5 linked regions of the Homo sapiens genome follow. The protein of the gene in region 1 purifies or fractionates together with the protein of each later gene. This does not show direct contact. Each region holds a gene or a part of one and is shown in the gene's direction. Other genes may lie near its edges.

Region 1 (6,354 bases):
CAACCGAGACATGGGGAGAAAACGACAAACATCAGCGTGTCTTGAAATCTAGACTCTCAGAGATGGGAGTAACTACTAAGATCATCTGTTCCAGCTCCCCCAACTGCTCCAACTCCCCACACAACACCATCAACAGATGGTGAGGATCCCTCCAACCCGGACACTCCCAGAGGCCCAGGCTGTGCATGTGTGAGCCTCTGCGAGGAAAGAACCCAGAAGCCAGCAACTCTCCCCTCTCCTACTGATGGGAGTTGGTGGATGCTGGCCCCATCTCCTCCCCTGGAAGAGAAGGGGGAAAAGGGCGGGGAAGTACCTTTTCTTTGTGGTAAAACTTTAAAACTTTTAAAATGTATATCTTATTGTATTACATCATTATAATGTACTCTTTTAGTATAAAAGTAATTCATGTTCATTGCCTAAAAATTGGGAAGTTGAAAAGTATGCAAAGAACAAATCAATCACCCATGATCCTACCACTCCCATCCCACACTGTTAATATACTGGCATATTTCCTTTCCATCTGTTTTTATGCCTCGAAATTATACAATCCATAGAGAGCCAGCATTTATTGGGTGCCTAATAAGTATACTTTGCATGGTGTTAAATTTTATATTCATTATATCCTTTAATCCTCAGGAGTCCCTCTGAGGTGTTATTACTATCAATCCCATTTTTCTAGGGTTGCATTTTTCTAGGGTTCTAAGACTTCAGGTGACTTGCCCAAGTTACATAGCTAGTATGTGGCAGAATCAAGATTCAAACCCAGGCTGTCTGACTCAAAAGTATGGTTGCTGAGCCCCTGTAGCTATTGGTTCTCTGCTTTTTTCTGAATTAGTGTTGTAGCAAAAGACCTTCATGAACATTGTTTTCCTGGCTGCATATTATTACACTGTTAGTTATTTAAGTTGCTTCCTGTCTTTAGCAACTACAAATAACTCTGGGCAAAGTCTTTACTGCACACACTTCCCATTACTTCCTTTGGATAGATGCCTAGAAATAGATCACCAGGCCAAAGGGCATGAATGTTTTAAGGCTCACAGTATATATGAGAAGCCACTTTTCAAAAAGGGTACACTAATTTAGGATTCCATTCACCAGAAACAACTCGGCCATAGTTCAAGCAGATGACCTTTAGGAATCCAAATAGGCCAAGGCCTCACACGACCAAGCCACATCACACGAGCATTCTTCAGTCTCATGGAAGAAGGAATCACACATATCACCTTGCTTTATACACTCGGGAGGGATTATGGAAACCATACAACATAAAGCTATACCTATTTTTATGTGAGCAAGTATCAGCTGCAGAATTCTCTAGCTAAATGTCACATACTAACTTTGAACAAATCAAACCATCATGTAAAATATACAAATGTGTATAATGTCCCACTTCTCCATACAAGTCATTATAACAACATTCACTCTTGTGAACGTGCATCATGATCACAGCCAGGTTCAGCAAGCTTAACCCATCAGCAACAGCTTCCTCACATACTGGCCATATTCAAAGAGTTGTTTATTTGTACCAAGTATCAGAATTCCACACCCAACCATAGTGAGAGCTGATGTCACTTTATAAGTAACAGAGTTTGTCTGACTAAAAAAAAAAAAGAAATCAAGGCTAGTAACTATTAATAGTAATAAAACAATTTAAAAATAAAGTTATACCCATCATTTAAAAAAAATGTCCTCAGGTGGAAACAAAATGTGGCTGGCAGAAGAGAGATTGAATTAGGCAATACAAAACACACACACACACACACAAAGGGTTAGAAGAAAACAAACTGGCCCTAGCTATGAGTTGTTCCTAGAGCCTCGTTGATCTCCAAGCCACCTCTGCCACCAGCAGTGGGTTTAGTAGCCCTGGAATATAATCTGTTGTTGCTCCCACTCTGAGATCAATTTATGCAAGATTCAGCTCAGGTCCGGAAACATCCTTCAGGGAAGCCCACCCTAGAGATGTCCTGAATCCACAGCACCTGTGCGTAAGCTTACCTCGCTATGGCGAAGTCACTATTTGCATATCTCCCACTGAACTATGAGCCCCCTGAAGGCAGAGACCATGTCTAATCCTTTTCTGTATCCCCAGCACCTGAGATAGTGCCAATCCATAGTCAACAATTAAATGTGACGAATGAACGAATAAGAGAATTTTCCAGGTCCTGTACTGGATGCTTTACGTGCATTTCTCTTTCAGCATACCTTTATTCTGCTCAGGCTAGTCAGTCCCAGAAATATACCTGAAAGGTGTCTAGAGCTGTGCTGTCTGTTTTCACATGTGACTATTTCCTGTTTAACTTTAGTTCATTAAAATTAAATGAAATTTAAAATTCAGTTCCTCGGTCACACCAGTCACATTGCTAGTGCTTACATGCAGCATGTGATTTCTGGCTATCATATTGGAGAATGCACATTTAAAAGATTTCCATCATTGCAAAAAGTTTAACTGGACTGTGCTACAGTGTAAGCTTGGTGCAAGCAAAGTGTGTGTCTATGTCTGTCTCGTTTTCCACTGTATCCTCTGCACTAGCACAGTGCCTAGCCCCGAAGAGATGAGGGAGAGAAAGATAAAGGAGGGATGGTGGTAGTAAATGTTGTGGTAATATTAGCAATAGCACTTACTGGGCACCGACTCTGAGTCCCACATTGGGCTATGTTCTGTGCACGCATAGCTTCACCTGATATTCACATCACTACACTCCTGGTATTAACCCCATCTCACAGATAAGGAAACTGAGTCTCAGAAAGTTTCAGTAATTTGCCTATGGTCACAAAGCTGATAGGAGAGACTGAGATTGAAACTCAGGTCTATATGATTTCAAAGCCTTTTCTCTTTATTTATCTTCTCTTTTTTTCTTGGACCTTTTGCTTTACTGCCTCAATAACTGCTGTGTGTTGTGATGTGGATTAGGATTGCCACCATCTTGGCTTCCTGGGAAATCACAGAAAGGGGACTTTTGAAAGCTTTCCAAGAGAAACAATGGGTATAATTTATGACTCTGAATCACATATCAAGAGTGCAAAATTTTGCTCAGGGTCTTAAGAGAACCTGTCCCTGGATGGGTGAAGGAGGGAGAAAGGAACCCATCCATAGTGTGGCCTGACCTGATTTCAGCGTGTCTTGAAATCTAGACTCTCAGAGATGGGAGTAACTACTAAGATCATCTGTTCCAGCTCCCCCAACTGCTCCAACTCCCCACACAACACCATCAACAGATGGCGAGGATCCCTCCAACCTGGACACTCCCAGAGGCCCAGGCTGTGCATGCATGAGCCTCTGCGAGGAAAGAACCCAGAAGCCAGCAACTCTCCCCTCTCCTACTGATGGGAGTTGGTGGATGCTGGCCCCATCTCCTCCCCTGGAAGAGAAGGGGGAAAAGGGCGGGGAACCAAAAACCTACAAGAGCAGACCAGTCAACCACCATAGTCTGTGCTTCTCCTCAGGGAGTCCTGAACCAGCTCTTAAGATCTCGCAACCTATTAATGGGGTAACTTGGCTCTCAAATCCCTGGCCAACGCCCTTTTCACTGCTCCACCCTACCTCATGGGCCATTTGCTCCAGTGCCCTCACTATTATTATCATCACTCTTGTCCTAGTTTTCTCTAATTTCTTTATTCTTAAAGAATAAAGTGCAAAATTTCAAGGGAGTCCTAATCAGCATGGAGAAGACTGAAATTACCACCTCCTCATTCTATTTCCTATTTCTATTAAAACTCTTTAAGGTCTAATTAAGAATCTATACCATTGACACCTGTTGAGCTTAATATCAACTGAAGTAACCCAATTCTCTTTTAAACTTGCTCTTGAACTGCATTGCCCACCTGCTCGCCTTCACCCGATACTTGCCCACACCCCCTCACAGCCACTCTAGAGACTGTGCATTGTTTCTCATTTTATCTTGTTCAGTTCAGTCTGCCTCGCCAACTTGCCCAGATATTTCTGGCTGTGATTCTAGCATCCAGTGTATTTACCGGCCCTCTCAGCCAGCTTCCTGCCATCTCTGAATCTGATGAGCACGACCTCTTCATCTAAGTCATCAATAAAAATAATGAACACTATGGGATTCTGAGGCATTCCACTGTATGTTCCCTAAACATAGATATTAATTCAATAATTAAACAGCACTTACTTAGAAAATTTATTCAGCTTTCTGTACTATAACTGAGCCCATATTTCTTCATCTTTTTCAACATTATTAGAAGAATCTTATCAAAGGTCTCTGATAAACTCCAAATATTCTTCATCACTGGTATTTCCTTGATCTTCCGTCCAATAATCTTGTCAAAGAAGCAATTTTGTTGGTCTGACATAAACTAATTTCAGTGATTCCATGCTGGTTCCTTGAAATCACAGCTTCAATCCTAAAAGCTCATTCCACATCCCATTCCAGAATGTTCCCTGGAATTAACATCAGTCCCTCAAATTAAGACATTTTTATAAATTTTCCCATTTTAAAAAGTAGAACTTTATTTCTCATGAAGGTGATGGTAGTGGTGGTGATGATGGTGGTAATGGTGGTGGTGATGCTGGTGGTAGGACAGTGATGCTGGTGCTGGTGCTGGTGCTGGTGATGGTGATAATGGGGTAATGATGGTAGTGGTAGGACAGTGATGCTGGTGGTGGTGCTGGTGATAGTGGTGGCAGTAGTAGGGGTGATTATTGTGGTGGTGGTAGTGGTGGGGTGATGGTGGTGGGGGTAATGGTGGTAAGGTGGTGGTGGTGGTGATAGTGGTGATGGTGGTAGTGGCAGTGGAGGTGATGGTGGTGGTGGTGATAGTGGTGATGGTAGTGGTTGTGGGGGTTATGATAATGGTGGTGATGATCATAGTGGTGGGAGTAGTGTTCATGGTGGTGGTGGTGGTGGTGATAGTGGTGATGGTAGTGGTGGTGGTGGTGATGATCATGGTGGTAGGAGTAGTGTTGTTGGTGGTGGTGATAGTGGTGATGGTAGTGGTGGTGGGGGGTGACAATAATGGTGGTGATGATGATCGTGCTGGTGGTAGTGGTGTTGGTGTTGGTGGTAGCGGTGATGGTAGTTGTGTGGGGAGTTGACGATAGTGGTGTTGGTGGTGGTATTGATGGTGGTGGTGATAGTTGTGGGGGTGATGGTGGTGATAATGATAATGGTGGTTGGGGGCAGGGTGATGATGGAGATAGTAGTGGCTTCCTTAACTCTATGATTCTGAACAAATTAAGGAGCATGGTCTAATTACCTCAATTGCACACTGTCTCAGCACCCTGGGATGTTATTCAATTAGGATTAGAGATATATATTAATTTGGGGCAGATCTAAGAATTTCTGGCGTCATAGAAAATGAGATCAGAGAAGGAGCCAAGAGAACATCTGGTTCTAAGCCTTCATCCTGAGAAATAAGGAAACCCCCAACATAATAAGTGCCCTGCCTGGGGTTACCCAGCCAGAATAGGAGCCAGGGTCTCACCACTCTGACCAGTGCCTTCTCCAGGGCATAACTCCTCTTTTCACTTCCTTTTCTGAAGAAGCTTAAGGCTTTATTTCCTGCAAAAATATCTATTTCTCCTCTTGGAATTCGCTTCTTAAGTCATTGATGCTTCAGTGAAAGTTAAAGATTCTTTCCTGGAATCATGATGTGTAAGAGAAAAGAAGGAAAGAGCTTAAGAGCTCTCATTTTCCAAGTGAAAAATGGAGGCATCTAGAAAAGTCTGCTGTGGCAAGAAAAGGGATGGAAGAGAAAAACTCAATGGCCAGACAGCAGCTGACAAAACCCAGACTTGCCTGCCCAGTTAATCATTTGGGTCCATCACTCCTTTCTGTGTGTTTTGCGTTGGAAGTTTTCTTCTCGCCTTGGGAATAAACAGTGTCGTCTGCAGAGAAACCAAGTTTTCACTTTGCTGATGGCTGATCTGGTGTGAAAGTTCCAAGTAGCCAAAGGTCAGTGAGGCCACTTTGATCCTTAGATGCTGAAATACTTGAAATGTTTTTGGCCTAAATGTTTCCATTTCCTGCTGCATTTCTCCACCCCTCTGCTCTGGGAACAGTGGCTCATAGTACTTCACCAGCTCCGTCGTGCCCCTGACTTGCAGTTAAAGTAAATAAGCTAGAGAAAGCTCTTTCCAGCTCCCAGAAGGCCAGGGTGTCCCTTCCTTGGAAGCCACACAAAATGGTTACTCTCATCTAGCCCCCCAAACTCCCCATCCAAAAGTCTCATCAACAAGGATGTTCCTGATCCCCAGAACCTGACATAAAGATATTCACTGGTGGAAGTCAGTCTCTTCCCTTTTCTCATGCCGGCATGTCCAGCAGGCCTGGATGATCACAAAGTGATCTTTCTCAACTATTAGGAAGCTAGTAGCCATATGTTCCTATAGGGGAA
Region 2 (6,354 bases), on another chromosome or scaffold:
TTGATCATCTTCTCCACGGTAAGACAGGCTCACCAAAATGTGTTTGAGCTTTTTTTTCCTGTACCTTTTTAGGCTGTGTTTAATATTTTATATGAGTTCAGTAAAAGCATTTATTGTGAGTAGGAATTTTAAAAATCACATAAAGCATATACCTCGGACAGGTTTTGGTTCTTTTGCCTTTTTTTGGTTTATGTTTTGTTTTATTTTGAGACGTAGTCTCTGTTTCCCGGGCTGGAGTACAGTGGCACGATCAAAGCTCACTGTGGCCTCAAACTCCTGGGCTCAAGGATCCAGTGATCCTCCCACCTCAGCTCCCCAAGTAGCTAGTGGGCGCCACCATGCTCAGCTAATTACTTTTTGTAGAGATGGGGATCGTGCTGTGTCGACCAGGCTCAAGCAGTTCTCCCACCTTGGCCTAGTTCTAAAGCACAGGGTGGGCCACTGCACCTGGCGCGGATGGGTTTTTTGTTGTTGCTGGTTTTAGTATCTGACATGTGCCCAAAAAATCACTTTTTTATTCATTTGCAGTGAACTGCTCAGAGCATCTAAATTAATGGTTTATGGCAGGAAAAGATTTCCGTCTGATGAGATTTGGTAGCTTTGCATTTAAAATACTCATTTCTCCTGGCCTCTTTTCTGTGTTGAAACGTTTGGTGCCAACTGAGTGATCACTGTGTGTGTCCTTGGCACTGACATTGGGCCTCTGGGTTGAAGTCCAGTAGTAACGGTATGTGGTGTGTGTCTGTTATTTTTTCCCCAGAGGGAGAGACAAGCTCAACGAGAAGATGCCCTCGAGCTCACGGAGAAGCTAGACCAAGACTGGAAAGAAATTCAGACTCTCCTGTCCCACAAAACTCCCAAGTCAGAGAACAGAGACAAAAAGGAAAAACCCAAGGTGGGAGCCAAGTACTGAAACAAACTCTTCACTCACTGAGCTTGGGTGACCGACTTTCTCCAGAGAAAGGGCTGGGGCTGGACGGCTCTTCTACCTGTCTCCTTTAGGGCAAGTTTCTGTTGAACATTGATACTGAATTACCTGCTGTGTGTAATCTTGGGGTGGAAGTAGATTCAGTTACTTGAGTCTCTATTGCAGGTGAATTAAACTGAAAAAAGTGGTGTTTCTGGATGGAAGAAGTACTTCAGGGTGGACACGTTAGAATAGGTGTCTGAACTTCCCTGTGACATGTTTGTCTGTTGATACATAATACATACATTTAATATACATTTACTTATTTTTGCCTCTGTAAACAGTTGTTTCCTACTGCATTCTCTTTAGTCGAAACTATTGGAAAATGCTGCATTTGTTTAAGAAACTGCGTTCTCAGAGAAGTCTAGATCCCAGCAGATTAGTGTCATGTGGTCATCTGTGCATCTTTGTCAGTCAGCCTTGATGTTACCGTTACTTTACTTAGTTTCCCACGTTTAGGGCGTAATGCCTGGATAAGTAGCGTTTTTGTTGTTGTTTGAGACGGAGTCTCGCTCTGTCACCCAGGCTGGAGTGTAGTGCAACCTCCACCTCACTGCAACCTCCACCTCCTGGGTTCAAGTGATTCTCTTGCCTCAGCCTCCCGGGTAGCTGGGATTACAGGCGCGTGCCACCATGCTTGACTAATTTTTGTATTTTTAGTAAAGACAGGGTTTCACCATGTTGGGCCAGGCTGATCTCAAACTCCTGACCTCACGTGATCTGCCCACCTTGGCCTCCCAAAGTGCTGGGATTACAGGCGTGAGCCACTGCACCTGGCCTGTTTTCGTTAAAGCAGATGTATTCTGAGAATTTTTCTAGGGGTAAACAAATTCTTTGTGACCGAATGTCCACTGATTTCGCAATCCTCAGGGCTTATCAGAACAGTTTTCTCTCTAGAAGAAAAGACGTAGATGTGGCTTAGCTACTTCAATAACATTATCTAGCCATTACTAGAATGTGCCAGGAAGCTAGATCTTTTCTTTTTGTAAAATAAGAAATAAATATATTTTTAAAATGAAGAATTTCTTCTTTCTACCTTAGCCCGATGCATATGACATGATGGTTCGCGAGCTTGGCTTTGAAATGAAGGCGCAGCCCTCTAACAGGATGAAGACGGAGGCAGAATTGGCAAAGGAAGAGCAGGAGCACCTCAGGAAGCTGGAGGTAGGGTGGCAGCACCTCAGGAGCAGGGCTGTGCTGCTGTCCGTCCACAGCCCCTTCTGCTCCATTTTGCAGGATGGGCTGAAGAGAATACTCTGTTTGATCAGTGGAATATTTTAGTCTATTTAAAGTTTATATTTATTCATGAATACCTTTTTTTTTTTTTTTCTTTGAGACAGAGTTTCGCTCTGTCACCCAGCTAGAGTACAGTGGCACAATCTTGGCTCACTGCAAACTCCACCTCCTGGGTTCAAGTGATTCTCCTGCCTCAGCCTCCTGAGTAGCTAGGATTACAGGCGCCTGCCACCACGCCCGGCTAATTTTTGTATTTTTAGTAGAGATAGGATTTCGCCATGTTGGCCAGGCGGTCTTGAACTCCTGACCTCAGGTGATCCAGTCACCTCGGCCTCCCAAAGTGCTGGGATTACAGGTGTGAGCCACCGCGCCTGGCCCCAGCTAATTTTCAAAAATTGTTTGTATAGATGAGCATCTCCCTATGTTGCCTAGGCTGTTCTCAAACTCCTGGTCTCAGCTGATCCTCCCACCACGGCCTCCCACAGTGCTGGGGTTACAGGTGTGGGCTGCCATCACAGCTGGCTCAGCTGGCTGTTTTGACATAACCACATCACTAGCTTCTTCCCGTGTCCAGTGTGTGGTCAAATAGTGGAGGCCGTGGAGCTGCTTGCTCTTGGCGTCCTGGCTCCTATTCTCTCGGTGCAGGGGGTGATGAGTCCCAGTCGGGGCTGGCCAGCAGAATTGGGCTGTGAAGGCCTCAGAATAATAGGCTTGCCTGGTGACTGGAGAGTATTGGCCACAAAGTTTGAACAGTTGATTTTGTTAAATGAGGAATGTGCTGCTTAGCTAGTGTTTGCATGCCTGATTGAAAACTGCAGGCAGAAAGCAGGCTGGATGCACCAGCCTCAGAGCTGGGAGGACCGTAGGCCCAGCCCGCTGCCCAGGGCAGGACTGCACGGCCCCCTCACCATATGTTGGAAGAGTGTGCTCTAAGACATCTCATTCCTTCCTGCTCAGGCTGAGAGACTTCGAAGAATGCTTGGAAAGGATGAGGATGAAAATGTTAAGAAACCAAAACATATGTCAGCAGATGATCTGAATGATGGCTTCGTGCTAGATAAAGATGACAGGCGTTTGCTTTCCTACAAAGTAAGATGTTTGCCTTCATTTTCTCTTTCTCTCTCTTTTTTTAATTTAAAAACATTTTTTTGGTATTCATTTTAGGGATTTATTACAGTTGGGAATTTTAAATCTTTTTAACCAGTTTCTCTAAAGTTCTTTATCTGGGTGTTTATGGTATATCAGATATTAAAACTTTAGAGAGAAGACTTTAACAATAGTATGTGCACTCACTTGCTCACGCTCTCTTTCTCACTCTCTCTCTCTGTCTCAAAGGAACACAGATAAAACTGATTACTCGGTTAACATCAACTACTTTTGTTAATAACTGTATGATTCTATCTGCATGACCTCATCATACTATTGAGGGAGCTAACTCAAGGCTAGAGTTGTGAATTTTCTTTGAGTGATGTCATTGAGTTTCCATGACTGGTGTAGTTTTTAATTCACGAACTTTATAAATCGGTACCCTTTTCTCGTTTTAAGAGTGTATCAGTCAGGGTCCAGGGAAGAAAAATAGGCAGGACAGGTTTCAAGCAGAAGAGATCCACACAGGAAAATGGATACTGATAAAAACACTAGGTTACCTGGAGGAGCAGAAGGTGCTGTAGACACTCCTCCTGCTAAAGCCCGCAGCCACTGTACACCTTCCAAATCCCAGTCCCATGCTGCTCCCTGGCAAAAGCTGAACCGCGCCCAGCATCCTGCCGCAGGGTTCTCTAGCAGCCTGTAGCTCCTGCGGCTCGAATAGCCTAGAAGCGGGTGGTGGGCAGGAGGCCTAGTGCCAGTGGGCAAATGGAGCACACAGGTTTGTGTTCCTTGCAACCACGTAGAAAGCCCTGATGTGGGCAGCCTCTTGATGTGGCTGTGAGATGGTCCAGCGTTGTCTCCGCCTGTCCTCATGCCCTGTGGTTTCCACGCTCTTGGTAGGATGGAAAGATGAATGTCGAGGAAGATGTCCAGGAAGAGCAAAGCAAGGAAGCCAGTGACCCTGAGAGCAACGAGGAAGAAGGTGACAGTTCAGGCGGGGAGGACACAGAGGAGAGCGACAGCCCAGATAGCCACTTGGACCTGGAATCCAACGTGGAGAGTGAGGAAGAAAACGAGAAGCCAGCAAAAGAGCAGAGGCAGACTCCTGGGAAAGGGTTGATAAGCGGCAAGGAAAGAGCTGGAAAAGCTACCAGAGACGAGCTGCCCTACACGTTCGCAGGTGGGCAAGTGCGCGGGTTTCCTCAGGTTCTGGGATAACCTTTATGACCTGGCCATAGCTGTGTGTGTTCGTCTCCCTCCCAGGGGTTGCATTTGTGGAATGGGGACCAAGGATGCCCTTGGGAGTGCCTGGACACACCCCTGTGTCTGCTGATCCAGGTCTTAGAGTGAGTGGTCATCTTAGTTTGTGACTGTGGTTCTGTAGGCCGGCCCCCGATGGGCCAGATGCGCCTCTCTCTAGTGGTACCTTCACCTCCCTTTTAGTATATGGTCAGCCTCTTGTGGTGGACCAGAGGGGCAGGGCTGGGGAGGTGGGTGAGCATCTGCGAGAAGGCTTCCATGTTCCCACCTGGGCCTCCTGTTTGGCCACGTAACATTTTAGATGGAATATACAGTGTTGTTTTGTCTAGTATGTGGAGAAAAATTGTCCAGGCCAGGTGCGTGGCTGATGCCTATAATCCCAACACTTTGGGAGGCCAAGGTGGGTGGGTCACTTGAGCCTTGGAGTTTGAGACCAGCCTGGGCAACATTGCGAAACCTCGTCTCTACCAAAAATATAAAAAATAAGCCTGGTGCAATAGCTTGTGCCTGTGTTCCTAGCTGGTCAGGAGGCTGAGGTGGGAGGATCACTTGAGCCTGGGAGGCGGAGGTTGCAGTGAGCCGAGATTACACCACTGCACTCTAGCCTGGGTGACAGAGCAAGACCCTGTCTCAAAACAAAGAAAAGAAAAATGGTCAGGTTCTAGTAAGCAATGCCGAATTATTCTGTGCCTGCCAGACGCTTCCAGAGGAGAAGCTAGTGGTGAAGCTGGCCTCTGTGAAGTGCCCTCTGGTGGCAAGAGTCTCCTGAGCTGACACTGCTTGGCTCACAGTGGCTCCTTCCAGGTCCTTCTGAAGCAGTCTGGGCACTAAACCCAGCACCCTGCCACCAAGATGCTCTGAAACTGTGGGTGTTTTAGCAAATTCCTAATCAAGGAAAGGTGGGAGGGCATTTCCTTATTAGCCTGTTCCCAGGTGCGTGATCGCACCTGACAGCCCAGGTCAGGATGGCTGAGACCCCTCCAGGTGTACCAGGGCAAACGCTGGTGGGTTTGTTGTGATCGTGAAGTAGAATAGTTATATAAAATTACCTCTCTGTCAGCAGACATGTAAGTAATTCTCATTTTAAATGTGAAATGTGGGCCAGGTGCGGTGGCTCATGCCTGTAATCCCAGCACTTTGGGAGGCCTAGGCAGGCGGATCACCTGAGGTCAGGAGCTCAAGACCAGCCTGGCCAACACGGTGAAGCCCTGTCTCTACTGAAAATACAAAAATTAGCCGGGCATGGTGGCGAGTGCCTGTAATCCCAGCTACTCAGCAGGCTGGGGCAGGAGAATCTCTTGAACCCAGGAGGCGGAAGTTTCAGTGAGCTGAGATTGCACCACTGCACTCCAGCCTGGGCAACAGAGCGAGACTCCATCTCAAAAATAAATATATATACATATATATAAATGTTAAATGTGCAGTATGTTTTGTGTTTTTGATAGCCCCTGAATCCTATGAGGAACTGAGATCTCTGTTGTTAGGAAGATCGATGGAAGAGCAGCTTTTGGTGGTGGAGAGAATTCAGAAGTGCAACCACCCGAGTCTCGCAGAAGGAAACAAAGCAAAATTAGAAGTACGTGGATTGAGTGTGTGTGGAGCGCTGGGAGTGTCAGCATAGCCCCGTATATGAATGCCAGAATTGTGTGAAGTTGTGCAACGGCCATGTGTGCCTCAGGCCAGATGGGGCCAGCCCGTCACATGGTTACCTATGATGATGGCTGGGAGTACTTGGTATGGCACCGGCAGAGGCCTCCCTTGGCTTTGGCCCCTCTCTAGGCCTCGTGCCAGACCCAGCCAGA
Region 3 (6,354 bases), on another chromosome or scaffold:
GCCTTTCCTTCCAGAATGTGAGCTACTCAAAGAAAACAGCTGTGACTTGGTCAATTTTGGGCTCCTGAGCGTCTAGCACAGTGCCTGCCCTATAGTAGGTGTATTATTGACTAAATGAAGGACGTTTTCTACAAATCTTTAAAGATAAAGAGAATCATAAGTATGATAAAGGGCCTTAATTTAAAGGAAATAGCCAAATAAATTGAAATGAATTTGTAGTGGGGGACAGTGGTGGTTATATTTAGGACTTCAAGAAAGCGAAACTTCACAAATTTGTGTCAAATCTCTTTCTCACATATTTATCTCATATTATTCAAATATCAAACAATTTTAAGTTCAGAATATCTTAACAGTTTATAGAGTAAATTTCATTTTTGAAATGTGAATCGAGGGTAAGTTTTGAGATTAACTGAAGAAAGTCATTTTTGACCTTATATATTCCTTGTCTATTATTTGTTTTAATAGAACCTGTGTGCAGACACATTAGAAAAGGATTGGAACAAGGTAATTTGAAAAAGGCTTTAGTGAATGTGGAATGGAATATCTGCCAAGACTGTAAGACTGACAATAAAGTGAAAGATAAAGCTGAAGAAGAAACAGAAGAAAAGCCTTCAGTTTGGCTGTGTCTTAAATGTGGCCATCAGGTATGCTTACGTTTTAAGATCAATATGGGATTTTAGAAAACTCTTTGAACTTACTTTAGAAGGTATTACCTGAAAGTACAGTATGGATAAAAGGATACTAGTAACATAGATCATGTTCTCTGGAGAACCAGTTCTGAGATGTGTGTATAGGTGGTGGAGTGTTCTCTGGTACCACACCAGTAAAAGTAAGGGAAGCAAGATTAAGCATAGGGAGAAGTTGAATGAAGAGGCAGTGGCAACAGGGTCTCAGCCAATCCCACAGTGATCTCTTGCCTGAATTGAGGCAAGGAGCTAGACCTTTCTACCTGTGCATAGACCAGTCATTGGATGTGGCCTGCCCCTAGAGCAGGAAGTAACCTTGGGCAAGGCAGCTCCCTTTTGTTGAGACTGATTCCTGGGGATGGATGGACTAGACTGTGAGCTCTCAGCCGGCCACATTCTCAGCACCTGGGGGAATGAGTAGTACCTTGATCTTTGGCAGTGAGGGCATGTCTGGCTGGCACATCACAGTATCTACTCTACCAGCTCACAGTTATTACCGTGGTACTAAAGTCAGGGTCTCTCAGTTACCCTTAGTGGTGGCAAGTTAAGCTTATATGTTAGGAAATTGGGCTACTAGGCAGTAGTCATGAAGTCATGAGGCTTCAAGATCAGGCAGATAGCCAGTTTTTTGTTGTTTTTTTGAGATGGGGTCTCACTCTGTCACCCAGGCTGGAGTGCAGTGGCACAATCTTGGCTCATGGCAGCCTCCACCTCCCAGGTTCAAGCAGTTTTCCTGCCTCAGTCTCCAAGTAGCTGGAATTACAGGTGTGTGCCACCACGCCTGGCTGAGTTTTGTATTTTTAGTAGAGACAGGGTTTTGCCATGTTGGCCAGGCTGGTCTCAAACTCCTGATTTCAAGTGATCCACTCACCTTGGCTCCCTCAAAGTGCTAGGAATACAGGCGTGAGCCACTGCGCCCAGCCAGGATTTTTTGTTTTTTCACGTTTTCAAATTGAAAATCTTATTGAGGTTATTATAGATCATGTGCAGATCTAACAGATAATACAGAGAAATCCCTATGCATTTTTCTCAGAGTCCCCCAGTGGTAACATTTTACAAAATGAGTATAATATCACAACCAGGATATTGAGATTGAAACAACACACCAATCGCAATCAGATCTCCTGAGTTTGACTTCTTTTTTTGTGCATGTGTGTATGTGTACATGTGTATTACATTCTGTACACTTTTGTCACCTGTGTAGATTATTCACCACCACAGTCACGATACTAAATAGTTGAACATCACAGGGATCTCTTGTGTTGCCCTTGTATAATCATACCCACCTCCCTACTGCCACCACTCTCTGCAGCCCCTGGCAACTACCATTCTATTCTGTATTTCTAAATTTAGTCATTTCATCAAAAATGTTATGTAAATGGAGTCATACAGTGTGCAACATTTGGGGATTGGCTTTTGCTTTTTTCTTTTTTTGAGGCAGGGTCTCACTCTCTCACCCAGGCTGGAGTTCAGCGGTATAATCACGGCTCACGGCAGCCTTCACCTCCCAGGCTCAAGTGATCCTCCCACCTCAGCCTCCTGAGTAGCTGGGACTACACCTGCATGCCACCACTCCTGGCTAATTTTTGTATTTTTTCTAAAGATGCGGTTTTGGTATACTGCCCAGGCTGGTCTTGAACTCCTGGGCTCAAGTGATCTACCCCCCTGGGCCTCCCAAAGTGCTAAGATGATAGGTGTGAGCCACCGTGCCCAGCCAGGATTGGCTTTTTCACTCAGCATAATCACCCAAAGATTTATCAAAGCTGTGTGTATCAAGTTTGCTCTTTTTTTATTACTGAGCGTATTTTATGGCATATAGTACAACAGCTTGTTTTTACTGTTTACCTGTCGAATGACAACATCTGGGCTGATCCCATTTTTTGGTGATTACAAATAAAGCTGCTGTTAACATTTGTGTACAGGTTTTTGTGTGAACTTAGATTTCATTTCTCTAGGATAAATGCCCAAGAGTGCAATTGCTGGGTCCTATGGCAATTTAATGTTTAGTTTTTTAAGAAACTGCCAAACTGCCAAACTGTTTTTTCACAGTGACTCTACCTTTTATATTCTTACTAGCAGTGTATGAATGATTCACTTTCACTTTTTCTTCATTTTTGCCAGCATTTACAATTGTCACAGTTTTTTATTTTAGCCATCATGATAGTTATATACTGATATCTCATTGTGGTCAGTTAAAAAAATCTGTATGTTAGAAAAGATACTGTTTACTTGTATTTGAAAGGTTTAATTGTAACCTTTTAAATACATATGGTGAGTATGAATATGCTTTGCTATTTCAGTTTTTCAGAATATATTTTGTGTTACAAATTTTTGTGCTACCTTTTTAATTTGTAAGAATAAGACATGTCAGTATTAACTGCTAACTTTTTTCCCACTAGATACCTTTGGCACTGTTAGCTAATGATTCTTAACTGTTGTCTCAAGACAACTATGTTTCAAATGATCTCAAATGATGTTGTAATTTTCAAAAATAGTATCAAATGTTAATTCATTTATTTTGTAATTAAATGTTCAGTGGGATAAATTAAGCGAATAGTGTTTGGGATCATAGTTAAGGAATTAGAAATTACCAATGTATATTTCTTCTCCAAAGTATATATTTAGCGGCAATGGAAACACGACCGGTTGTTGTACTGTGATCCAAAAGTTGATAGACTGGTTCCAGTAGATACACAGTGAAGATATGTTTCTCAGCAGTGATCTGACTAGCTGAAAGCAGAAGTTTAGGTCATGTTCTTTTATGAATAAGCCTATACATCTTTTAGGTAAAAGTCTCCCATTTACTTGTTTAAATAGTGTTTTTTGACCACCTCCTGTGTTCTAGAATATTTGGTAATAGATTAAGTCTACTGCCTTGAGCCTTTGGGATTTATAGACCAGGTGAGAAAGGATATAAATATCAATAACGTTAGTACAAGGTAAAAAATAAGGAATGCCACTAGGAATTCATGCCATGTTTTATAGAATTTGTTTAAAGGAAGGAGACAGTATTTTCTCATCTGGGAGATAAGTATAGGCTTCTGGGAGGAGGTGGCTTTTGAGCAAGATCTTGAAGAGTGGGTGGGATTTGGTTAGGTAGCAGTGTTCATAAAGGATTCTGGATAAATAGAATAATGTGAACAAAATTGCATAGTTGTGAAAAGCGCTCAGTGTGTTTTTAGCTGGTCGTTGGTATGTGAATAAGAGAATGTGGGAGTTAACACTGGAGAGATATGTCGGGGTCAGAGGATGTCAGGTTTGTTTATTAGGAGTTTAAGAGTGCAATTCATAATTTTTGAATGGTGTATGAACAGAGCTTTGTTTTAGGAACACTAAACTGAAAGAATATGCATGTGAAGAAGGAGGCTGAAGTTAGGGGAATGTTTAGGAGACTGTTAAGGAATCCAAACCAGACTTGACTGCATTAGTGTGGTTTAATCTGGGCTGGAAAGTTGGACAAGAAGAGTACTTTGAGTGCATGGTTTTCTTTTTTTTTTTTTTTTTATTTTGAGATGGAGTTTTTGCTCTTGTTGCCCAGGCTAGAGTGCAGGCCCAGACGTGATCTTGGCTCACTGCAACCTCCGCCTCCTGAGTTCAAGCAGTTCTCCTGCCTCAGCCTCCTAATTAGCTGGGATTACAGATGTGCGCCACCACACCCGGCTAATTTTTGTATTTTTAGTAGAGATGGGGTTTCACCATGTTGGTCAGGCTGGTCTCGAACTCCTGACCTCAGGTGATCCCACCCCTGGCCTCAGCCTCCCAAAGTGCTGGGATTACAGGTGTGAGCCACCGCGCCTAGCGAGTGCATGGTTTTCTAAATACTTGTTGACTTAAATGTTCTCAGTTGCCTGTGCATATGTAAGTTTTAACAAAATATTGATTCTAGAGTCTAACATTTTCTTTTCAAGATTGTAAGAATGGCAGAATTTCATGAGCCACTTCCTTGTTTATGATAGATTATGCATTCTCCCCTCTTGCTGAGTTTTTATGGCTTTGAGGTTTATGATTATGATTTTTTTAGGGCTGTGGCAGAAATTCTCAGGAGCAGCATGCCTTGAAGCACTATCTGACGCCAAGATCTGAACCTCACTGTCTGGTTCTTAGTTTGGACAACTGGAGTGTATGGTGAGTTTCAGTTCCTCTGCCTCTTGGGTGGAAATTATTTGAAATATTAGAGAATGGAAATGTTTAAATATGTTTAAGAAGAAAGCAATTTAAAATTTTTGTAGTATGTTTTAAAATACCATCACTTTCACAAAGCTAAAGAATGCAGTATTATGAGAAGCTTTTACTTGGACGTTTGCACAAGCACAAACATTGTAACATAGAAGACTTAAGAATCTTTACCCCTTTGTTTTTCTTGCTTGTGATATTATAAGGCATATAGTGGAGATAGGGACGCTAAGAACAAATTTCAGATAAAATTGTAATAAAATTTTGGCTATGAATTTGCATGAAAATAAATGTCAGTCTGGTATGTTATAGATGCTGCATTGTAACATCATTAAAACAGATTTTTACGTCTTAAAAATCATTTTCACAGTAGTCTTCACTGAATGACATCTTTTTTTTTTTTTTGAGACGGAATCTTTCTGTCGCCCAGGCTGGAGTGCAGTGGTGTGATCTCGGCTCACCACAACCTCCGCCTCCCAGGTTCAAGCAATTCTCCTGCCTCAGCCTCCCGAGTAGCTGAGATTACAGGGATGCACCACCACGCCCGGCTAATTTTTGTATTTTTAGTAGAGACGGGGTTTCACCATGTTGGTCAGGCTGGTCTCAAACTCCTGACCTCGTGATCCCCTTGTGATCCGCATGCCTCAGCCTCCCAAAGTGCTGGGATTACAGGCATGAGCCACCGTGCCTGGCTTGAATGGCATCTTTCAATTGTAAAAGTTGTTACTTTTGTCTGGCTAACACGTTGAAACCCCATCTCTACTAAAAATACAAAAAAAAAGTAGCTGGGCATGGTGGTGGGTGCCTGTAGTCCCAGCTACTCGGGAGGCTGAGGTAGGAGAATGGCATGAACCAGGGAGCTGGAGGTTGCAGTGAGCCGAGATCCTGCCACTGCACGCAGCCTGGGCAACAGAGCGAGACTCCGTCTCAAAAAAAACCAAAAAACAAAACAAACAAAAAAAAGTTGTTATTTTTGTTAGTGTTATTCTGTATTTTAAAATATATGTAAACAATCTTTTGACTTCAATGTTATAACCAGTAAAGTAAAACGTTTGGAGTATTTCATCATACTACTTATATGCAGCCATAATTCTGGCTAATTTTATTAATAATAAACCAGAGTTAATATGCATAGTCTTCTTCAGGAAAACAGAATTTTTACGTTCGGTTTCTTTAATAGAATAAGTTGGCAGTTACACACTTTGATTCCAGGAATTATTATTTGTCTCCCCCTTTTTAGTTGTCATTTTGTCATTTTTCATCTCTGATTTTTGGGTCACAGGTGTTACGTATGTGATAATGAGGTCCAGTATTGTAGTTCAAACCAGTTGGGTCAAGTGGTTGATTATGTCAGAAAACAAGCCAGCATTACAACTCCAAAGCCAGGTAAAATAATTTGTTTCTTTAATATACACCAAATGTCGATTTGTGTATCTGCTGATACTTAGATTTGTTATACTACCTAGCATTACATACAGCTGAGTAACATTAGTTA
Region 4 (6,354 bases), on another chromosome or scaffold:
ATCAGTTTTCCCATGATTAAAATAAGCGATATTTTGGTAAACATTGATAAGTTAGTTGCGCATTTTAGTTCAGAAACCCACAGCGAGTCAGAAGGCGCTTTGTGCTGCTGGGCGCCTCTGAGTGATTCCGGGGAGTGCGGCAGTTCTCCAGCCCCAGGAGACCCTGTGAAAGAAGCACAAACAATGCTCACGGCAAAACTCACAGTGTTTATTCTTGACCTGGGTGTCTGCCTTGAATTCTTGTCATTTTTCCTATCGTGGTGGATGTAGCCGGAATGCTTTAAAGAAAACATGAGAGTTTTTTCTGCCTGTTTCCCTTGAGCCTGGAACCGATTATGACCCCAGATAGCCTGCACAGGGCTCTTTCCTTTCTGGAACACCTGCCCAGGCTAGAATATGGGAGTAGGGAGGAGGTGAGGCTCTCTCCTGCCCGGTAACCTTCCCGGCCAGCTCTCCAAGACGCTGAAACCTTCCTTCGGGTCTGTTGAAACTGCATCCCCAGCACCATCATGTCGGAGCAAGAAGAGAAGGGCATGTGTCCCCTTTAGGCTTGACTCTTTCCAATTAGGGACCTGCCTGTTGTTAGGATTTAGAGTCCATGTGAATGTGCAGTATTGTTCAGTGCTGCGAGCATTTTTGCTTGTCTGAATTTCCTGATAGAAGGGAATTTGGACAAAAAGAAGCTTATTGTACATGGTGCCATTTTATTCCTTAAATCAATAATAACAAATACTTTATTTATGTATTTTTAGAGATGGGGTCTTGCTCTGTTGCCCTGATCATAGCTCACTGCAGCCTTGGCTTTCTGGGCTCAAGTGATCCTTCTGCCTCAGCCTCCCAAGTAGCTGGGCCGACAGGCACAAGTCAGCATGTCCAGCTTTTTTTTTTTCTTTCTTTTTTTTTTTTTTTTTAATTTTCAATTTTTTTCTAGAGATTGGGTCTTGCTGTGTTGCCTAGGCTGGTCTTGAGCACCTGGACTCAAGCAATCTTCCTGCATCGGCCTCCCAAAGTGCTGCGATTACAGTTGTGAGCTACTGTTCCTGGCCAACATATACTTTAATATGGCAAGACCATATAAAATAATTTTAAGAGGCCAGGTGTGGTGGCTCATGCCCCCCAGCACTTTGGGAGGCTGAGGGGGGCAGATCACGAGGTCAGGAGATCGAGACCATTCTAGCTAACACGGTGAAACCCCGTCTCTACTAAAAATACAAAAAATTAGCCAGGCATGGTGGTGGGCGCCTATAGTCCCAGCTCCTTGGGAGGCTGAGACAGGAGAATGGCGTGAACCATGGAGGTGGAGCTTGCAGTGAGCCAAGATTGCGCCACTGCACTCCAGCCTGGGTGACAGAGCAAGACTCCGTCTCAAAAAAAAAAACAATAATTTTAAGAACTGGAGGAAAATTCAGCAGGACTGAGTCGTGATTTCAGTTTCTGGTGCACTGTGGGTAATTGGGTAATTGTCAGCCTGGATGCTTGTGCTCCTTTAGTTGTCACTGTTACCTTGTCATCTATGTGAAGATGAGAAATGAAGTTGAGTGGAGAACTGTCGCCAAAGTCTGCCATGTAAAAATCGGTAGTGCCAATGTGCAAAGGTAATTCCCAGGTGCTATAAAAGTCCAGGTGGCTTCACAGTTTCAGATTGTATTTCCCGAAAGCGTAGAGAATTGATATCCCTGAATAGGAAATTGACGTCCCTGCCATTTGGTTCATTTGGGGAACAGAATAAACTTGTGTCCTTGCCTTCAGTTCTTTTTTCAACAGAATCTTATCAAGCATTTGAATCGTACACAACTGTAATGCCAGCTCCATGTTGATAAAAACTCAAGAATTCAAAATTATAAACTTGAAAACAGCAATTGCCAACTTCTGACAGTAGCAGGAGAGTCTGGAGGACCTGTTCAGAGGAAGTCGGGTACTGTTTCCTTTTCTTGTCTAGGTTTGTTCTTGTCCGATGGGATCAGAGAGATTGAGATGGGGCATGATAGGCGGTGGGTTCAGGAGAAAGGGAAGCTTTAGAAATGAAGGTAGAAAAGATGCTTTCTTATTGGAACAGTGTTTTCAACGTTGAGCTCTGGAATGTTGCAGCCAACTAATGGTTCTCATTTGGGACAGTTCTGTCCCCCACCTTTGAAGGGGGTTTGGTTTAATTCCCAATTTGATTATGAAGAAAATACCAGATTCAGCTTGCATTTTCAAGACACAGTGGTTCTATGTCAACTTCAGCCATTTCCAGGGATCTGTCTTAGGATACTTCAAAAAGCCTAACCTTTGAGATGCACTCAGCTCATAAGTTCGTGAAAATAAGAATGAATAATCTTCCCTGTCCAGTACATGACAGAAATTATTGTAGACCAGATGAGAGCAAGGAGAGATACTTGTTGATATTACATGTCACGGGATGCTCTGTTAAATTTTATGGGACTCTGAGTGTAATTCCTTTAAGCCAGTAGTCTCTAAATTTGGGGGAAGGACAGGGGACAGAAATGACTTGTTTCAGATTTTAATTCCCAAAAGGGTCTTAGTGAGTTTCATGCCCTCTGGCAGGTGCACAGCAAGATTTATTGGGATGCAGGAAGAAATTATGAAAATGTCCATTAAGAAAATCTCTAATACTTGTAAAAAATATATTTCTTGTCCATGAAATGCATGTTACTTGAGTATTTTATATATTTAATAAATTACATGAGTTAGGAGCACCTTCTGAAAACTTTTTTGCTGAAAAGGATATATGATGAAAGAAACATTTATGATGTAGGTCCCCAAAGGCTGGAAGAGGGGGTGATACCAACGTCCCTGCCTGCAGGTAGGACACAGTTGTACTCCCCTTTCCTCTGACTTCAGCTACTAAGGTATGTGTGCGTTTGCACGCACATGTATGTGCGTTAAGTAACTTTGAGATCCACCAGCTTAAGGACTGGACATCGTTCCAGAGGTACAGGTATTAGTGATTTGACTTAGGGAAGAAAGAATATGCAATAACAGGGAACCATGCACATACTGGATCTATTGTATTTTGCGTGTTGTTTTTAAAGCTGAAAAAATGCGCTTGTTTCGGAACTAGATGACAGTACCTGTTTGCAGGTCCACAAGGAAACCTTGGAACAATGCTATGCTTTTTAAGCGTTTTATGACTGCATTGTTTTCATAATCACTGAATTCTGTTTATAAATCAGCTGATTTCATTGACGGATGCCCTCAGGGCTCTGGAGAATTAGGCGTTTTGCTGCAGAAATGGTTCAGAATTTCAAAGACATCAACGTGAGATTGTACTGGAATTGAGTTGTGATAAAAGTCCTAGGGTGCTTTAAATCTTTAAATCTGGTTATTTGTTTGTTTGTTTTTTGAGGCAGAGTCTCACTCTGTCGCCTAGGCTAGAGTGTAGTGGCGTGATCTCAGCTCACTGCAACCTCCGCCTCCTGGGTTCAAGCAATTCTCCTGCCTCAGCCTCCCGAGTTGCTGGGATTACAGGCGCCTGCCACTGCACCCGGCTAATTTTTGTATTTTTAGTAGAGACGGGGTTTTGCCATGTTGGCCAGGCTGGTCTCGAACTCCTGACCTCAGGTGATCCGCCCACCTTGGTCTCCCAAAGTGGTGGGATTACCGGCGTGAGCCACTGTGACCTGCTGTTTTTGTTTTTGAGACATATTTCATCTATCATGGTTATTAAGTGTTTTGTTTTTTTGCATTTCTCATTGGTGTTTTTTGTTTGTTTGTTTGTTTTTTTGAGATGGAGTCTGGCTCTGTCGCCCAGGCTGGAGTGCTCAGCTCACTGCAACGTCTGCCTCCCAAGTTTAAGCAATTCTCCTGCCTCAGCATCCCGAGTAGCTGGGATTACAGGTGCCCACCACCACCACGCCTGGCTAATTGTTTTATTTTTAGTAGAGATGTGGTTTCACCATGTTGGCCAGGCTGGTTTCGAACTCCTGACCTCAAGTGATCTGCCTGCCTCGGCCTCCCAAAGTGCTGGAATTACAGGCGTGAACCACCACGCCTGGCCTCATTAGGTTTTTTTTTTTTTTCTGAGTTGCTGCTACACTACTGGTGTTACAGAGTGAATAAACATAAAAATTATATTCACAACTCAGACCACATTGTGGGCTGTGGAGGTGAGAAATAGGAATCATCTCTAAATTTAAGGTCTTCTGGCTGAGCTCATTTGCTTAGAATGGCTGAAGGTTTGGTTTTCATGAGATGAAATGCCAACCTCAAGTGGTTCTGGGTTTCCAGACCAGTTTTTAGTTTGTTTAACTTGAGAGAATTGATATGTCAGCTTTAGTTTTTGTGTGTAATTTTTGGTGTTTGCATCTGTTTTCTTCTTTGTGAATATTGAATTCGCAACATAACTTTGTTATATGAAATGATGCTCATACACTTGCGCAGTGCATTAGAAAGCCTGCCAGGAGCAGTACTTGTAGATTTCCGTGTACCAGCAGGATGCCTAATGCCGACCATGATTAATGCTCATCAGAATCTATGTAGACCTCCATTTGTCCTTTGATAAGCTGAAATATTTGTGTCTACTTTTTAAAAAACCTGTTGCTTCTCTTTATGGTAATACTCAGAAGGCACTCACTGTGAAGAGAGGAGAAACAGGAAGTAGAATTTTTTACTATCTAGATTGATGCACCTATCTCCCCTCTCCAGAGACCAATGCATTTAGGCCCCAGTAAGAAATTTAGTTGTAATGAACCATAAAGCAGATGCAGAGTATATTTGGGAATATACCTTATCTGACTCCACAGCCCAACCCCTTTAAGAGGAAAGAGATGGCACAATATATTTTGCTTTAAGCCTTAGACTGGTCTTGACTTCATATTGGAACCACTGAATTGCTTCAGCTGTGAACTGGAATCCTCTCCTGTCTTTGTTGTTGAGTGATGACACTCTTAATTAATCATTTGCTTATTTGCCATCCAAATCACCCTATATAATCTTTCAGAAGTGTATCTCAGAGAATGACCCTAAGTCGGCTGACCTCTGAAGCCTGTACCAGAATTGACTTTATTTCTTAAGCGCACACTTCCTGTGCTTTCAAGGGGCAGCTGTCTAGGTTTAGTTTCTGGGAGTTTGAGGCACAGAGGTATGTAGGGGAATGGGAAGGCCAAATGGTAAAAGCCCCTGGGACGTGGAATCTGTGAGTACACTAACCTTGAAAGAGATTATGAAAACAAACTTTAGAGCATTGTTGAAGCACCATCTACATAATTTATATCAATGAAGACAGTAACTTATTAGGAAGACAGGATTATTAAAATTAACCATTTTCATCTTTCTACAAAAATAAAAATCAAATCAATTTTAGTTCAGATAATTGTATGTGAAGCTTTATAAGTGAAAATTTGAAGTTAGCAAAATTATATAACCTTAGTTAATTATATTAGTGTACTCAAACTAAATATAGAATAAGATTAGCTCATGGAAACATTGCATTTTTATCTCAGTCAGTACTGCTCATATCCACCCAGTAGTTAGTTTCTAGTTACGTTTTGTAATTTTTTGAATATCCTGGACATGGTTTTAGAAAAGTTAGTTGAAACAAGATATTGTATGCTTTCATTATTTCCCAGTTCATCTTTAAGCATAATAAAAACACAGAGTAAGTTGTCCTTTTTGAATTTTCTTTCCTTTCTAATATGTGTCTGGCACAACAGAGGACCAAGCCCAGGGATCATTAATCCCATTTTTCTGCATGGCGTTTGCTGTGAGAGAAGTTTGGGCTGGATTCGTAGTTTGCTATCTAAGAGTAAATGTTCAACCTTCTCTAATTTCCTGTTTTGTTTGCTTTTCCATTCAGTGTTCTATATTTGGACAACAAATATATTTTTCTGTATGGGTTTCTGGTGGCCCAGATGTTCATTGGAGTGGAAATTCTTTCTGTCCACACCACTGAGTTGGGCAGTTACTGGTGTTTGGCTTTCTCTATCTCTTGGAGTTGACTTAGATACATTGTGTATTCAGGTTGGGCACTCATCCCCTTTGCAAGCTCTATTACTTTGTTCCATTTGGCTTTGCCATAAATGTTTGCCCTTGGCTTGCCAAGACGTCAGCTTTAAGAGATATGTCATTTAACTTAGAACTCTTGAGTCTGACTTAAAATTAAGTCAGTTTTCTTAAACATTGTTATTGAGGTATAAATGACATGCCACAAAAGTCACCTCTTTGAGGTGTACCATTCAGGGATTTTTGGTAAATTTACTGGGTTGTGTAGAGATCACCATGATGCAGTTTTAGAACATTTTCAATTCCCAATAAGATCGCTCCTACTCGGTTCTCACCCATTTCTGCTCCCACCTCCAGCCACGGGCCACCATGAATATCCTTCGTGTCTCTATAGATTCCCCTTTTGTGGAT
Region 5 (6,354 bases), on another chromosome or scaffold:
ACATCTCAGACAAATGAGCAAAGCAGTGTGTGGGCCAAAACAGGAGGTACAGTGGAGAGCGATGGTAGTACAGAAAGCACTGGACGCCTTGAGGAAAAAGGAACTGGGGAAAGTCAGAGTAGAGACAGAAGAAAAATTGATCAGCACACATTACTCCAAAGCATTGTAAACAGAACTGACTTAGATCCACGTGTCCTGTCCAACTCTGGTTGGGGACAGACTCCTATTAAGCAGAATACTGCCTGGGATACAGAAACATCACCTAGAGGGGAACGAAAGACTGACAATGGGACAGAGGCCTGGGGAAGCTCTGCAACACAGACTTTTAACTCAGGGGCATGTATAGATAAGACTAGCCCTAATGGTAATGATACCTCATCTGTATCAGGGTGGGGCGATCCCAAACCTGCTCTGAGGTGGGGAGATTCCAAAGGCTCAAACTGCCAGGGGGGGTGGGAAGATGATTCTGCTGCTACAGGAATGGTCAAGAGCAATCAGTGGGGGAATTGCAAAGAGGAGAAGGCTGCATGGAATGACTCGCAAAAGAATAAACAGGGATGGGGTGATGGACAAAAATCAAGCCAAGGGTGGTCTGTTTCTGCCAGTGATAACTGGGGAGAAACTTCAAGGAATAACCATTGGGGTGAGGCCAATAAGAAATCCAGCTCAGGAGGTAGTGACAGTGACAGGTCCGTTTCCGGTTGGAACGAACTTGGTAAAACTAGTTCTTTCACTTGGGGAAACAACATAAATCCAAATAATTCATCAGGATGGGATGAATCTTCTAAACCTACTCCTTCCCAGGGATGGGGAGACCCTCCAAAGTCTAATCAGTCTCTAGGTTGGGGAGATTCGTCAAAGCCAGTCAGCTCTCCAGACTGGAACAAGCAACAAGACATTGTTGGATCTTGGGGAATCCCACCAGCTACAGGCAAACCTCCTGGTACAGGCTGGCTGGGGGGACCTATACCAGCCCCAGCAAAAGAAGAAGAACCCACAGGCTGGGAGGAACCATCCCCAGAATCTATACGTCGCAAAATGGAGATTGATGATGGAACTTCAGCTTGGGGAGATCCAAGCAAATACAACTACAAAAATGTGAACATGTGGAACAAAAACGTCCCAAATGGCAACAGCCGTTCAGACCAGCAAGCACAGGTACATCAGCTGCTAACGCCTGCAAGTGCCATCTCAAACAAAGAGGCAAGCAGTGGCTCTGGTAAGTTTCTATTTTATGAAATCAAGCCTTGTTTTAACTTACTGTTATTATAAGATTTGTATAACAAAGTACTTGGATATGCACACAAAGGCTGTTCTTACTGTAATCCAGAAGCAGCTTGAAAAAAATTATAGGGGTGATGTTTACCACCAGAGAACAGAACTCCACTTTTGGCAGTGTTGTTTGAGTCCTGCACACTTCATTCTCTATTAGAAATGCAAGAGAAGGCGAATTGGACAAAGGCGGTCAAGTGGGAATGCTGTACACTTCTCCAAGTTGTTTTTGAGTTAGGCCTTAACTTGTGGTTTTATTATTTGACTAAAATATCTCCAGAAATAAAACAAGTATCTCATAAATACAGTACTCTCTAAACATTAGGTTGTATATTTGGCTTTAGAAGGGATTTTTTTTTTTAAGTAGGTGAGAAATCCAACTCTACTTAGATACAGTATATATGTTTGTGTATTTAAAACATTTGACAATACCTTTCTAGTATATCCTTACTTTCCTCTCTAATAATGAACTAATTCCTATCTCTGCAAATTTTCCCAACAACATTTTTGTTAAGTGTGATTGGCTACATTGTCTTTGTTAATAAAAGTTTTATTGACTTAATAGTCTCATTGGAAGTGGATATGGGAGTGCTTTCATGAGCTAACTTTTTGGCACTGAATTTTTTTTTTTTAGTCTAAGTATAGTTTGTTGTATTAATTTAGGTTTGATTCTTAAAAGGAAGAAGTATGTATCTAAGATGAAGCCTGTTGGCTTTGATTTTTTTTAATGAAACATTTATGGCTTTTTTTTTTTTTTTTTTTTTTTTTGCTTTGGACAACCTCAGCCTAATACTTCAGATTTTAAAATAAGCATTGTTCAGCATATGTAAAAAGTAGGTGACCCATTATTGTTAGCTGGGTAGTAAATTGTTTTTCCAGTGTAGGTGGTGTGGAAGGGGTACACTTGTGGCACAATTTTTTTTTTTTTTTTTTTTGGAGATGGAGGCTTTCTCCGTCACCCAGGCTGAAGTGCAGTGGCATGATCTCGGTTCACTGCAGCCTCCACCTCCCAGGTTCAAGCAATTCTCCTGTCTCAGCCTCCTGAGTAGCTGGGACTACAGGTGTGTGCCACCACGCCCAGCTAATCTTTGTATTTTTAGTAGAGACCAGGTTTTGCCATGTTGCCCAGGCTGGTCTCAAAATCCTGACCTCAGGTGATCCACCTGCCTCAGCCTCCCAAAGTGCTGGGATTACAGGCATCAGCCACTGTACCCAGCTGGTACAGATGTTATACATACACTGTCACCCAGCTTATCACCTGCTCCAATTTACAAGGTTTGGTTTAGAATGACTTGACTTTTTCAGGAATTAAACTGATGCTCAAAGGAGAGTGGTTTTCCATAACTATGCAAAAATCAGCTCTAGGTCTAGAGGGTAATTATGAAAAAAGTTAAAAAAATTCTCACCTTATATTAATGGGAAATAGTTTGTCTTTTTTTAACATAAAACAGATGCCATCTTTTTGCCTATCACAGTATCATTATTCAGTACATAAACATGAAGTTCTTCATCCTTGGTCCCTAAGTTTTCTTTATTGTCCCTTATTCCACTGCACCTCCTTACCTTCTATGCTGATGACTTCTTTTCCCACACTTTCTAAAGGCTGGGGTGAGCCCTGGGGGGAGCCTTCTACTCCAGCCACAACTGTGGATAATGGTACTTCAGCATGGGGTAAGCCCATAGACAGTGGTCCCAGCTGGGGGGAACCCATTGCTGCGGCATCCAGCACATCCACGTGGGGCTCCAGCTCTGTTGGTCCACAAGCATTAAGCAAATCTGGTAAGTTATTGACAATGCCTGGTAGCTGTTATGTAGCAGTGGCGAACACTCACTGACTATAATTAAATAATTAGATAAGGTTTCTATGTTATTTATAATATATTCATATAATGTAACATGATAGATGATGTTCAGTATTTTGCTCTTTGATTTTGTAACGTGGTTTATTCTCTTTCTGAATTTTCCTCTTTTCTCATATTTCTTAGAACTGTAACTATTCATTTGCATATACTTCATCAAATCTAAATTATATTTTACCAAATTAGGTTATCTAGGAAGAGTCTACTAGCAACTTTCATGCCATCCAGCCTGAGAGGCCAACTAGTGTAGCCATGAGGACACATATTCAGACTGTCAGATGATTCCCTGAAAGTTACAATTAGCATAGTTCAGAAAAGACCCAAGATTGAAATTAACATTGTCATTATCCCATAGGCTGTGTACAAGATGCCCGGTAGGAATCCCAAGGGCCATGTGTGAAGATAAGATGCTTTCTGCTTAAGGCTTTGAATACTCTCTGGCCATTCTCCCTAAAAATATATATAAAAATTAATTCTTTCAAATTTCATTCATCTTCTTTGTCCTGTGCATCACTATGCAGATTATTAAGTGGGTACAAACAAGAGTGCTACCATTGTCCATGTTCAAGAACTATGATTTGTTAAAGGCATGGAGGAGTTTTATTAAATTTTTAAATAAGAATATATTATTTTTCATGGAAGGTTTAGCTCAGTATAAAACATACTTTCCTTCTGTGCAGATGCAGGAAGGGAAATAAGTGTGCACGTGTGTGTTTTCTTAGGTTCTCTACCCAATTTTTAATATATACTTATTCTCCAGAAGGAATTCTTTTATTAAAGTATGTTTCTCTTTATATCACAAATCCACAATCAGGGCCAAAATCTATGCAAGATGGCTGGTGTGGTGATGATATGCCATTGCCTGGAAATCGCCCCACTGGCTGGGAAGAGGAAGAGGATGTGGAGATTGGAATGTGGAATAGTAATTCATCTCAAGAGCTTAACTCATCTTTAAATTGGCCACCATATACAAAGAAAATGTCATCGAAGGTAAACATTTCAAGGGCAAAGCCCTTGAAACTTTAAATTCCAAAGGTAGTTTACCCACAGAAAATTAACTTTTCGCCTGCCCATTTCTGGCGGTCAGTACAGTCCAGGCAGCCCCCACCTTAGGTATAGCCACTTGTATGGGCAGCCACCTAGAGAAACATAAGAAAGACCACAGGAACTTCCTTTCTCCCCACTGCTACAGCTTGGGATTTCTCTCTTCCTCCCCCTCCACCAGTGCTGCCTGGGACAACCCCTCATCCTAGGGTGGTGCCTGCAGTGGTGAGGATGAAGAGGAGGGCAAATCTCCATGTTGACTCTTTCCATCCCACTGCCAGTTCATCTCCCATTTCATTTCCTCACCTGGAGTCCCCCGCCACCCGCTTACCCAGAGTCACCATCCTCCTTATTCACCTGTCATGTTTGTCCCTATCCCATCCCAAAAGGTCCTGTGACAAAAATCCCTAGGAATGATCTGAGCTTGGTTTTGCTTTTATGTGTGGACAAATCATATTCCTAAAGCTGGCTGTACATCGAAATCCCATGGCATTTGTTAAAAATGCAGCTTCCTGTACCTCAGGTCTACTGAAGTTTTGGAAATTGGACCAAGTTTCTTATCCTAAAGAAACTCCTCAAATGTCTCTGATGCAGAGCCAGGTTTGGGAAGCACTGATTTAGAGCACTGGTTCTTAAGAGGTGGCACTGGGGGCTGCTGTCAGATCCTCCTGGGGACCATTTTCAAAATATGTGCCCAGTCCCCCAGGTGGTTCTAACATAACATCCTAACCCACCCTACTTGAGAATGATTACCTTTTGAGGGACCTTAGAAGTCAGATACCAGTGGATAGCTGGACTAGGTAACTGCCAAGGTTCCTCACTTTTAATCCTGGGATTCTAAGTCTAGGACCTGCCATTTTCATTTTTAAAATTTTTCATTTGGCTGAATTTGCCTATTGCCTTGCCATATAGCTTATGAAGTGCTTTTACATGTTTTACATAAGTCATTTGATCCTCACAACCATCTAAGATAGGACACTGATGAATTTGAGACTGGAAAAGGTGGTGACTTGCCCAAAGTTGCGATAACTAGTAAGCGACAGAGTAAGGACTTAAGTTTAGGTCTTCCAGTTCCAAACCCCATGTTCTTCCCACTGGACCATGCTGTTTTGTGACTTTGTCTTTCCTTACAGGGTCTGAGTGGCAAAAAAAGGAGAAGGGAAAGGGTGTGTAGCCTTTTTACTCTTTCTCCTTTGTTTCTACTAGTAAAAATCTTTAGAAAGCAACTGCAAACATTTATTTAGCCTCTGCTGTGTGCCAGGTACTGTGCTTGGTGCTGGGGATTCAAATACACTAAGATATGAGTTTCACCTTTCGGGAGCTCACAGTCTAGTATGGGGCATTAGGAGAGCTTCATAGAAGTGTCAGCTTGAATTTGGAAGATGCTTGGGATGGGATGTGTTAAGGAAGATAGTAGCCCAACATAACCAAAATGTAGAATTTTTAGGAAGAAGTGACAAGAGATCTGGCTCTGTAGTTGAGGCAGATTGTAGTGTCTTCAGTAGCATGCCAAGGAATTTGAACTTTATTTTGTGTAAAATATGGAACCAACGAAATTGAGTAGAAAACAACATCAGTGGGGTTTTTAAATTACTAATTTTAAAAGAAAGCTAATCAGTGATAGTATGAAATATAAATTGGTGCAGAGGGGAGACCACAGTTAGGGATCTCAGGGAGCATCTGCGTTAATTCAAGCTAGAAAGGACAGCTTGAGTTGGGAAATAAGAATGGATATATAGTGGAAGGGACTAATTTGAGAGGCATTTCAGTCAGAATAGAAAGGACAGAAGAACTTGGCAACTAGTTAGGTATGGGGATGGATGGGGTGAAAGGAAAAGGGATCAAAGCCAACTTCAGAATCTGCGGAGAGAGTTAGATGCTTGCTTCAGAGACCTGCATTTGGGGGGAAGTTGTGAAGCTGTGTTCTGTTCCACAGTCAGAAGGAATGGACAGTAGCAATGGGAAGGGGTAATGAAGTAATGAAGGCAACAGACTGAGAATGGTCCAGTGAGACCATAATGAGAGACATAGATCTCTATGGCTTCCAGCCTCCTTGTCTACCAGACTGCTGATCACAGACCCTCCATCCTCTTAACTCATGTCTCAATGGAGTTTGCGTACCACCCATACCCCAACCAGCCGCAGAGAGCCAGCCCTAAGCAGGAGGAATCCCAGGTTC

The links.
Region 2: the proteins of DGKG (region 1) and NOP14 purify together in Homo sapiens (affinity purification with mass spectrometry; one large-scale study listed by BioGRID and IntAct). This does not show direct contact.
Region 3: the proteins of DGKG (region 1) and USP16 purify together in Homo sapiens (affinity purification with western blotting; one study listed by BioGRID). This does not show direct contact.
Region 4: the proteins of DGKG (region 1) and TBL1X purify together in Homo sapiens (affinity purification with mass spectrometry; one large-scale study listed by BioGRID and IntAct). This does not show direct contact.
Region 5: the proteins of DGKG (region 1) and TNRC6A purify together in Homo sapiens (affinity purification with mass spectrometry, with the first as the bait; one large-scale study listed by BioGRID). This does not show direct contact.

The regions. Positions count from the first base shown.
Region 1 is NC_000003.12:186,353,917-186,360,270, reverse strand, and holds part of DGKG (diacylglycerol kinase gamma), read left to right. Parts: intron 1-6,354. UniProt on the Homo sapiens protein: Diacylglycerol kinase that converts diacylglycerol/DAG into phosphatidic acid/phosphatidate/PA and regulates the respective levels of these two bioactive lipids.
Region 2 is NC_000004.12:2,948,052-2,954,405, reverse strand, and holds part of NOP14 (nucleolar protein 14), read left to right. Parts: intron 1-760; coding exon 761-895; intron 896-2,008; coding exon 2,009-2,131; intron 2,132-3,160; coding exon 3,161-3,292; intron 3,293-3,327; exon of another isoform or gene 3,328-4,192; coding exon 4,193-4,472; intron 4,473-5,997; coding exon 5,998-6,128; intron 6,129-6,354. UniProt on the Homo sapiens protein: Involved in nucleolar processing of pre-18S ribosomal RNA. Has a role in the nuclear export of 40S pre-ribosomal subunit to the cytoplasm.
Region 3 is NC_000021.9:29,030,130-29,036,483, forward strand, and holds part of USP16 (ubiquitin carboxyl-terminal hydrolase 16), read left to right. Parts: intron 1-465; coding exon 466-644; intron 645-4,707; coding exon 4,708-4,811; intron 4,812-6,141; coding exon 6,142-6,245; intron 6,246-6,354. UniProt on the Homo sapiens protein: Specifically deubiquitinates 'Lys-120' of histone H2A (H2AK119Ub), a specific tag for epigenetic transcriptional repression, thereby acting as a coactivator.
Region 4 is NC_000023.11:9,471,546-9,477,899, forward strand, and holds part of TBL1X (F-box-like/WD repeat-containing protein TBL1X), read left to right. Parts: intron 1-6,354. UniProt on the Homo sapiens protein: F-box-like protein involved in the recruitment of the ubiquitin/19S proteasome complex to nuclear receptor-regulated transcription units. Plays an essential role in transcription activation mediated by nuclear receptors.
Region 5 is NC_000016.10:24,790,599-24,796,952, forward strand, and holds part of TNRC6A (trinucleotide repeat-containing gene 6A protein), read left to right. Parts: coding exon 1-1,219; intron 1,220-2,874; coding exon 2,875-3,051; intron 3,052-3,945; coding exon 3,946-4,121; intron 4,122-5,308; coding exon 5,309-5,341; intron 5,342-6,354.